Linked DNA regions of Homo sapiens: region 2 is linked to region 1. Evidence: fine-mapped expression QTL. A gene starts in region 1. The other region holds a variant in brackets. All regions are shown on one strand. Distances are between the middles of the regions.

The links.
Region 2: its variant is fine-mapped to the expression of ZNF589 in whole blood (TOPMed, PIP above 0.99).

The regions. Positions count from the first base shown.
Region 1 is chr3:48,238,121-48,243,497 of GRCh38, forward strand. ZNF589 (zinc finger protein 589) reads left to right here and starts at 2,984. Exons shown (of 4, transcript NM_016089.3): 1 at 2,984-3,094. The coding sequence starts at 3,052. RefSeq lists enhancers at 2,139-2,433, 2,751-3,668, 2,859-3,153.
Region 2 is chr3:48,331,434-48,336,810 of GRCh38, forward strand. SPINK8 (serine peptidase inhibitor Kazal type 8 (putative)) reads right to left here and starts at 2,228. Exons shown (of 8, transcript NM_001080525.3): 1 at 2,102-2,228; 2 at 933-1,038. RefSeq lists a silencer at 2,573-2,773. The variant C/T (reference allele first, on the strand shown) is at 2,421.

The DNA of each region.
Region 1 (5,377 bases):
AAACAAAAGTATAACCATCCAATGGGTCCACCTTCCCTGCTGCCTAGACAGAGCCAGTTTATCAAAGACAGCAAAATTGCAATAGAAAAAGAGTAATTCGGCTGGGCGCGGTGGCTCACGCCTGTAATCCCAGCACTTTGGGAGGCCGAGGCAGGCCGATCACGAGGTCATGAGATCGAGACCATCCTGGCTAACACAGTGAGACCCCGTCTCTACTAAAAATACAAAAAATTAGCCGGGCGTGTTGGCGGACGCCTGTAGTCCCAGCTAATGGGGAGGCTGAGGCAGGAGAATGGCATGAACCCGGGAAGCGGAGCTTGCAGTGAGCTGAGATGGTGCCACTGCACTCCAGCCTGGGCGACAGAGCAAGACTCCGTCTCAAAAAAAAAAAAAAAAAAAAGAGTAATTCATGCAGAGCCGGCTGTGCGGAAGACCAGAGTTTTATTATTACTCAAATCAGTTTCCTCAAAAACTCAGAGATCAAAATTTTTAAGGATAATTTGGTGGGAAGGGGGCCAGTGAATCAGGGTGCTGATTGGTTGGCTCGGGATGAAATCATAAGGAGTTGAAGCTGTTCTCTTAGGCTGAGTCAGTTCCTAGGTGGTGGCCACAAAACTGGTTGGCAGGTCCAGCTGGGGCCGTTCAGTTGTCAGAAATGCAAAAATCTGAAAAGACATCTCAAAAGGCCAATCTTAGGTTCACAATAGTGATGTTATCTTTAAGAGTAATTGAGGGCTGGGCGTGGTGGCTCACGCCTGGAATCCTACCACTTTGGGAGGCCAAGGTGGGCGGCTCACCTAGGTCAGGAGTTTGAGACCAGCCTGACCAACATGGAGAAACCCCGTCCTTACTAAAAATACAAAATTAGCCGGGCGTGGTGGCGCATGCCTGTAATTCCAGTTACTCCGGAGGCCGAGGCAGGATAATTGCTTGAACTCGGGAGGAGGAGGTTGCAGTGAGCCGAGATCGCACCATTGCACTCCAGCCTGGGCTCAAAAAAAAAAAAAAAAAAAAACCAACCTTGGCCGGGCGCGGTGGCTCACGCCTGTAATCCCAGCACTTTGGGAGGCCGAGGCGGGTGGATCATGAGGTCAGGAGATCGAGACCATCCTGGCTAACAAGGTGAAACCCCGTCTCTACTAAAAATACAAAAAATTAGCCGGGCGCGGTGGCGGGCGCCTGTAGTCCCAGCTACTGGGGAGGCTGAGGCAGGAGAATGGCGTGAACCCGGGAAGCGGAGCTTGCAGTGAGCCGAGATTGCGCCACTGCAGTCCGCAGTCCGGCCTGGGCGACAGAGCGAGACTCCGTCTCAAAAAAAAAAAAAAAAAAAAAAAAAAAACCAACCAAAAAAAAAAAGAATCCAAAAATATTAGCGGGGTATGGTGGTGCGTGCTTGTAATCCCGGCTACTCAGGAGGTTGAGGCAGGAGAATCGCTTGAACCCAGGAGAGGGAGGTTGCAGTGAGCCGAGATGGCACCACTGCACTCCAGCATGGTAGACAGAGTGAGACTCCGTGTTCTTTTCCCTAAAAAAAAAAAAAGAGTAATTGGGGAAGTTGTGCTTCAAAAGAGTAATTGGGGAAGTTGTGCGTCTTAGGGCCTCTGGAATAATGGCTGGTAATATTTAGAATTCCAGCCCTTCTCATCCTAATTTGGTGGCTGGTGGCCTTTCATTCATTTTACAAGAACAGTTTAGCCCTTGGGAAGGGCTATTATTTAAGCTATAAACTGAATTCCTTCCCAAGGCTACTTTGGCCTATGCCCAGAAGTGGACAAAGACAGTTTAGAGGTTGAAAGGAAGATGAGGTGGGTTAGATCTGATATCTTTTACTGTCATTGATAAGGCTCTGATGACTGGAGGAACACCAGGGTCCTTGGTCTCTGATAGGCTTAATAACACAGACACACGTGGAGTGGTTTTAAGGAGCGAAAAGTTTAATAGGCAAGAAAGAAGGAAGGAAGACGAAAACAGCTCCCCCATACAGAGACAGAGGGAGCGGGGATTCCAACAAAGAGAAAGCGCCGTGTGCGGAAAAGTGGCTGCTTATCTGAGGATGCTGGAGGAGGCGGTGTCTGGTTTCCATAGGGCTCAGGGGATTAGTTTGATCAGATGTGTCATTTATGTGGCAGCCAAAAACCTGGCCCTCCCACCCTAGCTTTTTAATATGCAAATGTAGGGCTCCATGAAGTTCTACACACGTGGGAATATGTGGGGGGTGGCCATGTTGCCAGGCACATGTCAGGGCAAAGAAAAGGACGGCGGGAATCGCCATGTTTGGGTGCGTCCAGTTTCTAATGGCCTGTATTTCCATATCAAAGCTTGCCATCCTGCTCTAGGAGCCCAGGCTTTCCTGCTAGACAAGAAACCTTTCTGGAGCTGCTTTAAAAGAAACAAAAACTTCCCAAGGACCCCTTTCCTTCTCTATCTGCTTAAAATAATTTCTTAATAACTCCTATAACATCATAATTTCCTTAGGTATAATTTTGCAAAGGCGGTTTCAAAAGCTCTTTGGGGTCCTCAGTAATTTTTAAGAGTGTAAAAGGATTTTAACAACAACAAGTTTGCGAACCACTGTCCTTGAGAAGCTCTCCATGGATGCGCATGAGTCTGTCCAATTGGAGTCCTGGTGTATTTCTACATTAGATACCACACAGCAGTGAACACACAATGAACAGGTCAACACGTGTCATTATAGAACTGCGCAAAAGAGCTAGTAGCAGGCATTGTAAGTGTATTTATATAATGTTTACAACCATGGAAAACAACACTATATTTTGCTTATGGGTACCTGTGGTAAGCACAACCCCAAATATTGCGGCCGAGGGGGACCTAGAAGGTCAAAGTGCGCCTCAGCATTTTCTCTCGCCCTGCACAAGCCGCATTTCGCCCCGAGAACTACGCTTCCCGGCAGGCTGCGCGCCGCGCGGTGACGCACTTCACCCAGTCCTGCTTCTTTCTTCTGGCGCCGCCAGTGGCCCGCGGTGCGCATTCTAATCCGTTTCACACACGGTGCTGCTACCTCGTTTGCTTCGTGCGTGCGTGCGCGCGCAGATGTGGGCCCCGCGGGAGCAGCTACTGGGCTGGACTGCGGAAGGTGAGTCGGGGCCGCGAGATCGCCTCCCCCATTCGGTGCTCCAGCCGCAGGCGCCGCGCAGGCGTCGGCCGTATCCACCAGGGATGCGCGTGGGGTGCGAGCTGTGTGAGGCGCTGACTACCCCTACAGCGGCTCTTACTCCCCTGGGGGGCCAGGTTCCTCCCTAGGTGTCCCGTACAGTCTCCACGGTGCTCACTCCACGACTCTTCACCGGGCATCCTGCACTTGTGCACTCCGGCAGTCATTGGCCATAAATGGCTGCTGAGCATTTGAGATGTGTGGAGTGCAACTGAAGAACAGCATTTTGTATTATTATATTATATCATATTTATTTTGAGACGGAGTCTCGCTCTGTCGCCCAGGCTGGAGTGCAGTGGCGCGATCTCCGTTCACTGCAATCTCCGTCTCCCGGGTTCAAGCAGTTCTCTGCCTCAGCCTGCCGAGCAGCTGGGATTACAGGCGCCCTCCACCACGCCTGGCTAATTTTTGTATTTTTAGTAGAGACGGGGATTTCACCATGTTGGCCAGGCTGGTTTTGAACTCCAGACCTCGTGATCCGCCCACCTCGGCCTCCCAAAGTGCTGGGATTACAGGCGTGAGCCACCGCGCCCGGAGTATATTATATTTTTATATTTTTTGAGTCGGTCCGGAGTGCAGTGGCGGGATCTAGGCTCACTGCAGCCTCCGCTTTCCCAGGCTCAAGTGATTCTCGTGCCTCAGCTTCCGGAGTAGCTGGGATTACAGGCGGCGCCTCACCACCCCGGCTGTTGTATTTTTAGTAGAGAGGGGATTTCGCCATATTTGCCAGGCTGGTCTCGAACTCCTGGCCTCAAGCAATCCACCCACCTTGGCCTCCCACAATGTTGGGATTACAGGTGTTAGCCACCCCACCCGGCCCAAAAGACTTTTTTTTTGGAGACAGAGTCTTGCTCTGTAGCCCAGGCTGGAGTGCAGTGGGCGATCTCTGCTCACTGCAACCTCTTTCTCCCAGGTTCCAGCGATTCTCCTGCCTCAGCCTACCAAGCGGCTGGAATTACAGGGACACGCCACCACGCCCGGCTATTTTTTTGTATTTTTAGTAGAGGCGGGGTTTCATCATGTTGGCCAGGCCGGTCTTGAACTCCTGACCCCAGATGATCCACCTGCCTCGGCCTCCCAAAGTGTTGGGATTACAGGTGGGAGCTACCACACCCGGCCCCAAATGACTTTGGATGTAACAACAGGAACAGTCTAGAACAGGGCTGGGCAAATTTTTTTCTGTTTGGTTTTTTTAGAAACAGGGTCTCCCTATGTTGCCCAGGCTGGTCTCCAACTCCTGGGCTCAAGGGATCCTCCCGCCTCGGTCTCCCAAAGTGCTAGGATTATAGGCGTGAGCCACTGCACCTGGTCTTGCAAACGTTTTCTTTTAAGGGCCAGGTGGTAAATGTTTCAGGCTTTGTAGGCCACACGGTCTTTGTTACGACTAGTGGTCTGCTGTTGTGTGAAAGCAGCCAAAGACCATAGGTAAACGAATGAGCATTGCCGTGTTCCAATAAAACTTTCTTTATAGACATTGAAATTTGAATTTTGGCTGAGTGCAGTGGCTCACGCCTGTAATCCCAGCACTTTGGGAGGCCAAGGCAGGAGGATCTCTTGAGCCCAGGAGTTCAAGACCAGCCTGGTCAACATGGCAACACCCCATCTCTACTTTAAAAATAAAATAAAATAAAATAAGCTGGGTGTGGTGCCGTACACCTGTAATCCCAGCTACTCTGAGGCTGAGGCGCAAGAATTGCTTGAACCTTGGAGGCAGAGGTTTCAGTGAGCCGAGATCGCATGACTGCACTCCAGCTTGGGTAACAGAATGAGACTCTAAAAAAAAAAAAGGAAATTTGAATTTCATATATAATTTTCATTATTATGAAATATTCTGTTTCTGATTTTTTTTTCAGCCAATTAAAAATGTAAAAACTGGCCCAGCATGGTGGCTCACGCCTGTAATCCCAGCACTTTGGAAGGCTGAGGCTAGGATCACTTGAGCCCAGAAGTTTGAGACCAGCCTGGGCAACATAGTGAGACTTCATCTTTGTGTTAAAATTTTTTTTTTCTGAAGTAAAGACTATTCTTAGCCTTTGGGTGGTATAACAACAGGTGGCAGGCTGGATTTGGCTTGTGTGTAGTTTGCCAAGCCATTGTTCAGCATGTAGCTGTTTGTCCTGTGTGGGAGCCCTTGTGCCTCCTTCCATCCACTCTTTGAGGGTGGTGGGCTTTGTCTCTGCCTACTGTGCCAAGACCAGTTCAATT
Region 2 (5,377 bases), 93 kb after region 1:
ACTCCTGCAGTGTAAGACTGCCACCTCTTTAGGTTTCTGTACAGCCAATGATAATCTTCTAATGGCTTCCTGATATTTGATAGGTGTTCCCTCAGAAGTTAGGAATTCTCTTTCTCTCCATATTGCTGCGTGGGCATGGAGGACTAGGTAAGCATACTTAGAGTCTGTATAGATATTTACCTTTTTTTCTTCTCCTAATTCTAGTGTATAATGGCCCCTGTTTTTGCTAGAATGTCTCTCCCTAACAAGGGAATGGGGCTTTCAGGCATAATTAGAAAGGTATGTGAAAATGGTAAAGTTCCCTAGTCACAACTTAGTGTCTGGGAGAAGTATCTAGTGACTGCCTGTCCTAGGACCCCTCGGATAGTGACAGATCTGGAGGACAGTTGTCTGGGACAGGAGAGTAAGACTGAGAAGGCCGCGCTAGTGTCCAGCAGACAGTTAACCTCCTGGCCCTCAGTGGTCAAGCATACCTGGGGAGGGTGATGCCAGGGGCTGGCGCTTGCCCCAGGCACCCTCAGTCCTGCTGCTGGATCATCTGGTTAGTGGCTTCTGACTCAGAGGACCTTCATCCCCTGGGGCAGTGGGCCTTCCAGTGATACCCTTGAAATAAGGGGCATGGATGAGGGGGTGGCTTATTTCTATTCGGACAATCTTTTTTAAAGTGTCCTTGTAGACCGCACTGGAATCAAATCCCTATTAGGCATTCGATTTGCCCAGCCTTTCACTTTTCCAGAGCCTCCAAAGTCCACTTGCCTGAAGGCCATGACTAAAGCGGTGGCCTTCTTTTTATCCCGTTTGTCCAGTTCTGCCTGCTCCTTCTGATCTCTATTATAAAAACTGAGGCCAAGTTCTTAGTTTAAGTTTTGTTCCAGGCCTAAGGCGGATTTTGAAGTTTTTTTCTAATGTCTGCAGCTGAGTGATAAACTTACCCTTTAAGATTAGTTGGCCTTCAATAGATCCAGATGACAGAGAGGTATGCTTCCTCAATGCCTCCCTTAGTCTCTCCAGAAAGGCAGTAGGATTTTCTTCCTTTCCCTGTGTTATAGTGGGCATCATTGAATAATTCATAGGCTTCTTCCTAGTTTTTCTTAGTCCTTCTAGCATGCAAGTTAGCAAATGTCTGCGGCACCAATCTCCACATTCTGATTCTGCGTCCCATTGAGGGTCTACACTGGGAACTGCCTGCTGGCCTGTGGGGAATCGTTCTCTTTCCTCTGTTGTCATCCTATCATTGACCTGACTGAGATACCAGAGATTGCCAAACTCTTGGGCTGCAGTTATAGCGGCACTTCTCTCATTTGGGGTTAGTATCTGATCTAGCAGTAACATTATGTCTCTCCATGTCAGATCAAAGGATTGTCCTAACCCTTGTAAAACATCAATATAGCCATCAGGGTTATTTGAGAATTTACCTAGGTCTATTTTAATTTGCTTCAAGTCTGAGAGGGAAAAAGGTACACACACTCTGGGCTGAATTCTCCTCCTCCCACCACTTCAAGGGGGCATAATCTGGGAATATTGGCACTCTTTGGTTCATTGTTTACCCCTTTCTCTATCTCCTTTGGCACCGTTTGTGTTGAAGGGGGGTCATTATTAGTTGGGGAAGGAGCCGGGGGAACGCCGGGGCAGGGGGGTAGATTCTGAGGGCTTCCTGTAGGGCATAAATCACACTTTTAACATAATTGTGAGTTGTCTCTTAATGAAAAGAAAGTTTGCACATATGGCACTTCGCTCCATTTGCCCTATTTTCTACAAAAGAAGTCTAGCTGTAAGATGGTGTTATAATTTATACTTCCCTTGGAGGGCATGTTTCTCCCTCTTGAAGAGGATATTGTGGCCAGGGGTACTGCAGAAGAATATAAGTCGTTTCTTTCTTAGCATCTGAGGGTCAAATTGGTCCTAATTCTCTAGAATACATCTTAGGGGCGTTTTTGCCTGGGAGGGGGGAACGTTTAAAAAGAACATAGGGATGCCAGCACCCCTAGTCATTTTCTGATGAGCATTAGTCCTAGAGCGTCCTCTGTGGTCCTAATGCTTATTCCTTTTCAGGGTGCGTAACCACCCACGGACCTCTGCTTATCAGATTAGTTACACTCACCGATGTAGCAGTCCTGCACCTGTTTTCCTGCCCTTCTTGACCACAAAGAAAGGGGTCTGGGCTGCTGGATTCTAGTGGTCCTTTACCAGCGTGCCTGACATTGCCTTTGCACTCAGGAGTGAGTTCTAGAGCTGGGCTGGGTTTCTGAGTATTTCATAACAACCCAGTTGCCCCATCAAGATGCATTTTCATAAACAACAGTTCTTATGCAAATTCGTTTCAGAGAGGGTGTAGGTAACCTTTTGAGTCAGGATTGAGATAGAGTTTTTGCCCACTAGGGCCTTTGTCCTTTTCCTTTGTAGGAATATGCCTTAATTAT[C/T]GAACTTAAGATTTTGTTGCCCTGGATTAAGTCCTTTTGGGTACGAAATATGAGAGATGGCTCCTGTTTATCCTATGTGCCTTTTTCCTACGAGAAGGAGAGCGAGGAGAAAAAGATGGGCTTGCTCTTTTTGTAAGTACTTTAAGGCTTGGCTGAGTGCAAACAGCTCGCAGTTTGTGCAGACCAATTATGAGGCAATTCTCCTAACTCTGCTTCCACAAGAGTTTCCTTATCAATTACTGAATACCCATTGTGGTTTTTTCCTCAATCGCCTGGGAGGAACCATCTATCGTCCTATCCTAAAGGAAGTTCCTCCTAGGTCTGGTTGGACCTTTGCATGGCAATTAAGATTTAAATCCCCTGTTAGGAAATCTGCTGGGTTAAGGGAATTATCAGTGGTTGGTGTTAAATCACCTTTTTCTAACAGAATAGCCCCATACTTTAAGAATTTTGAGCTAGTAAGCTACCTTTTTTTTTTTTTTTTTTTGGTCTTAGGATTGTTCTGAACTGGTGAGGTGTGCTCACAATGAGGTTTCCTCTAAAGGTTATTTTTCTACTTTATTCTGTTAGCAAAGCAGTTGCCACTACAGATTGAATGCATTTGGGCCATCCACGGGTTACTGGGTTCAGGATTTTTGATAGGAAGGCTATGGGTTGTCAGTGGTCTCAGTGTTTTCGGGCTACGCCCTTGTTTACACTGACAACAAGGTAGTATTGGAGTATTATAGGGTCGTGGAGAAGACCTTTAATTATCAATTATAGGTTCTAAATTTACCTTGGCTTTTAAAGGAATAGGGTACACTGTTTTTTCTTTACTACCTCTCTCTTTCCCTTTTTTCTTTCTTTCTCTCTTTGACTTTCTGCCTCTTCCTCTCTCTGTCTGTCTTTTTTTAGATGGATTTTGGAAACGCAGTGGAAGGACGTTCACTTGTTGCCCCAGTTTGCCACTATAGGAACATGTGCCTCCCTTTAATTTACTCAAATTCGTTTTCATCCTGATCTATTATGTTGTTGTAGACTCAGTTCCAGTTGTTAAAATACTGGGTTATCAGTTCTAAGGGCCTGGCCAAGGAGCCAAGGCTTGGAGATTGTATTGCAGGGGGTAGTAAACTGGGTAGAAATTAGGGGAGGAGAGCATCTTACACAATGGGAGAGCGATCTTCCTAGCTATTTACAAACTTGGGGCCCTGGCAAGGGTGGTGGGGAATGGGTCCCACATAACAGCCCATGTTGACAGCTATATACCTAAATTGGGAGGGACACCAGGGGCAAGACTCCCTGGGTTCATAGCCTAGATATCTAAGGCCACAGCATAGAGCTTCCTTAGATCTCTTTGGAGATACAACTTGCTCTAATACTTGGGAGAGGAAATGAAAGTCTGAAGCATTAGTACCTAGGAGGCAGGGATTGGAGGAAGTAGATTCAGAGGTAAGGAGAATTTTTGGGGCTACACTTTCAAGAAAGTCATGGTCGGGACCCAGGAGGTATGGGTCAGAAGGAAAGGTAGGGGTGCACACGTGGGCAACTGTTGAGTAGAGACTTCTGGCTGCACCATGATCTCAACCAGCCAATGCCGGGAGTTCAGGACGACAGCTTTCTGCCTCTAGTCGGCCCTCGGCTTCCCCCCAGGAAATTGTGAAAGCGGAAGCTGGTTCCAGGCAGACCAACGCTCCTAACCCCAAAGGGTTGGGGGTTGTTAGAAAGCCTTTTCCCAGAAAGCCTCACAGCTGAGTCTTAAGTCCAGTGGCCATGCTAATCATTTTTAACTGGCTGACAGGTGCCCGGTATTTCCTCTGATTCTAAGGAAGGATAGGACAGGATAGCAAGCTAAAGTGGTTCAATATTACTCACCACTTTGGAGAATACCTGTACGGGCCAACAGCTGTTACCAGGCAGGTCTTTGTTCTTAGAGCTCCTGAGATGGTGGCAGGCCGCTCCCAAGATGGCGGCAAGCCTTTTGTTCTCTGACCTGGGGTTCTTGGCCTCACGGATTCCAAGGAATGGAAACTTGGGACATGCAGTGAGTGTTATAGCTCTATTAGAAGCCGTCGGTCACGGAAGAGAACCCTGGAACCCAGCGACTAGTGTTTAGCTCGATTAGGATGAACCCAGGCACTTAGCCATGCAGGGACAATGGCGAGCCTCTAGCCTGATTGGGAGTGGCAATGGGCACCTCGCTGGATCAGAAGCATAGCAGCCACCCTGCCCAATCCGGAGGTGTGGAAGCCAATGGTGGGTCAGCGACGTTGGCTTTCAGCAGTGGTGGAGAGTGAGTGAAAGCTCAGCTCGAGCCGGAACAAACATGGAACAGAAGAGTGTGCAGTTGCAAGATTTAATAGAGTGAAAACAGAGCTCCCATACAAAGGAGGGGACCCAAAGGGGGTTGCCTGCAAAACTGTCTTAAAAAAAAAGTTTAAATAGTTACAAATAACTCAATTACTGGCCTAGTTTAAATATTACTATTTTAAAATAAAAATCATTATCTTAGACATAACCCATGGAATTTACATTCTATGGCAATTTGATTTTACATTGTATATTTGAAAGCCACATGGATGAACTCAGTTAGAAATTGTATGTCATTTCTTTTTCTCCTTGAATGAACGTTTCATTCTGCTTTCTCCATGTAACTTTTATTTCAATGTTATGCTTGATGGTGAGTTACTGATCATGCTTTTCTACTTTTCATCATCAGAAATATGCAAATAAATGGATTTTTCAAAGTTCCTGGGATCATAGGATATAAAGTTTTAATCTGTTTCTCTTGAACTGAGTTATTATCACAGTTAGTAGTACATGTCAATCAAAACATAGGTATACTATAAAATTTGATAGTTATTTGATGTAGAGGTAGATTTATTTCTTTTCTTTTTTTTTTTTTTTTTGAGATGGAGTCTCACTCTGTCCCCCAGGCTGGAGTGCAGTGGTGCAATCTCAGCTCACTGCAACCTCCACCT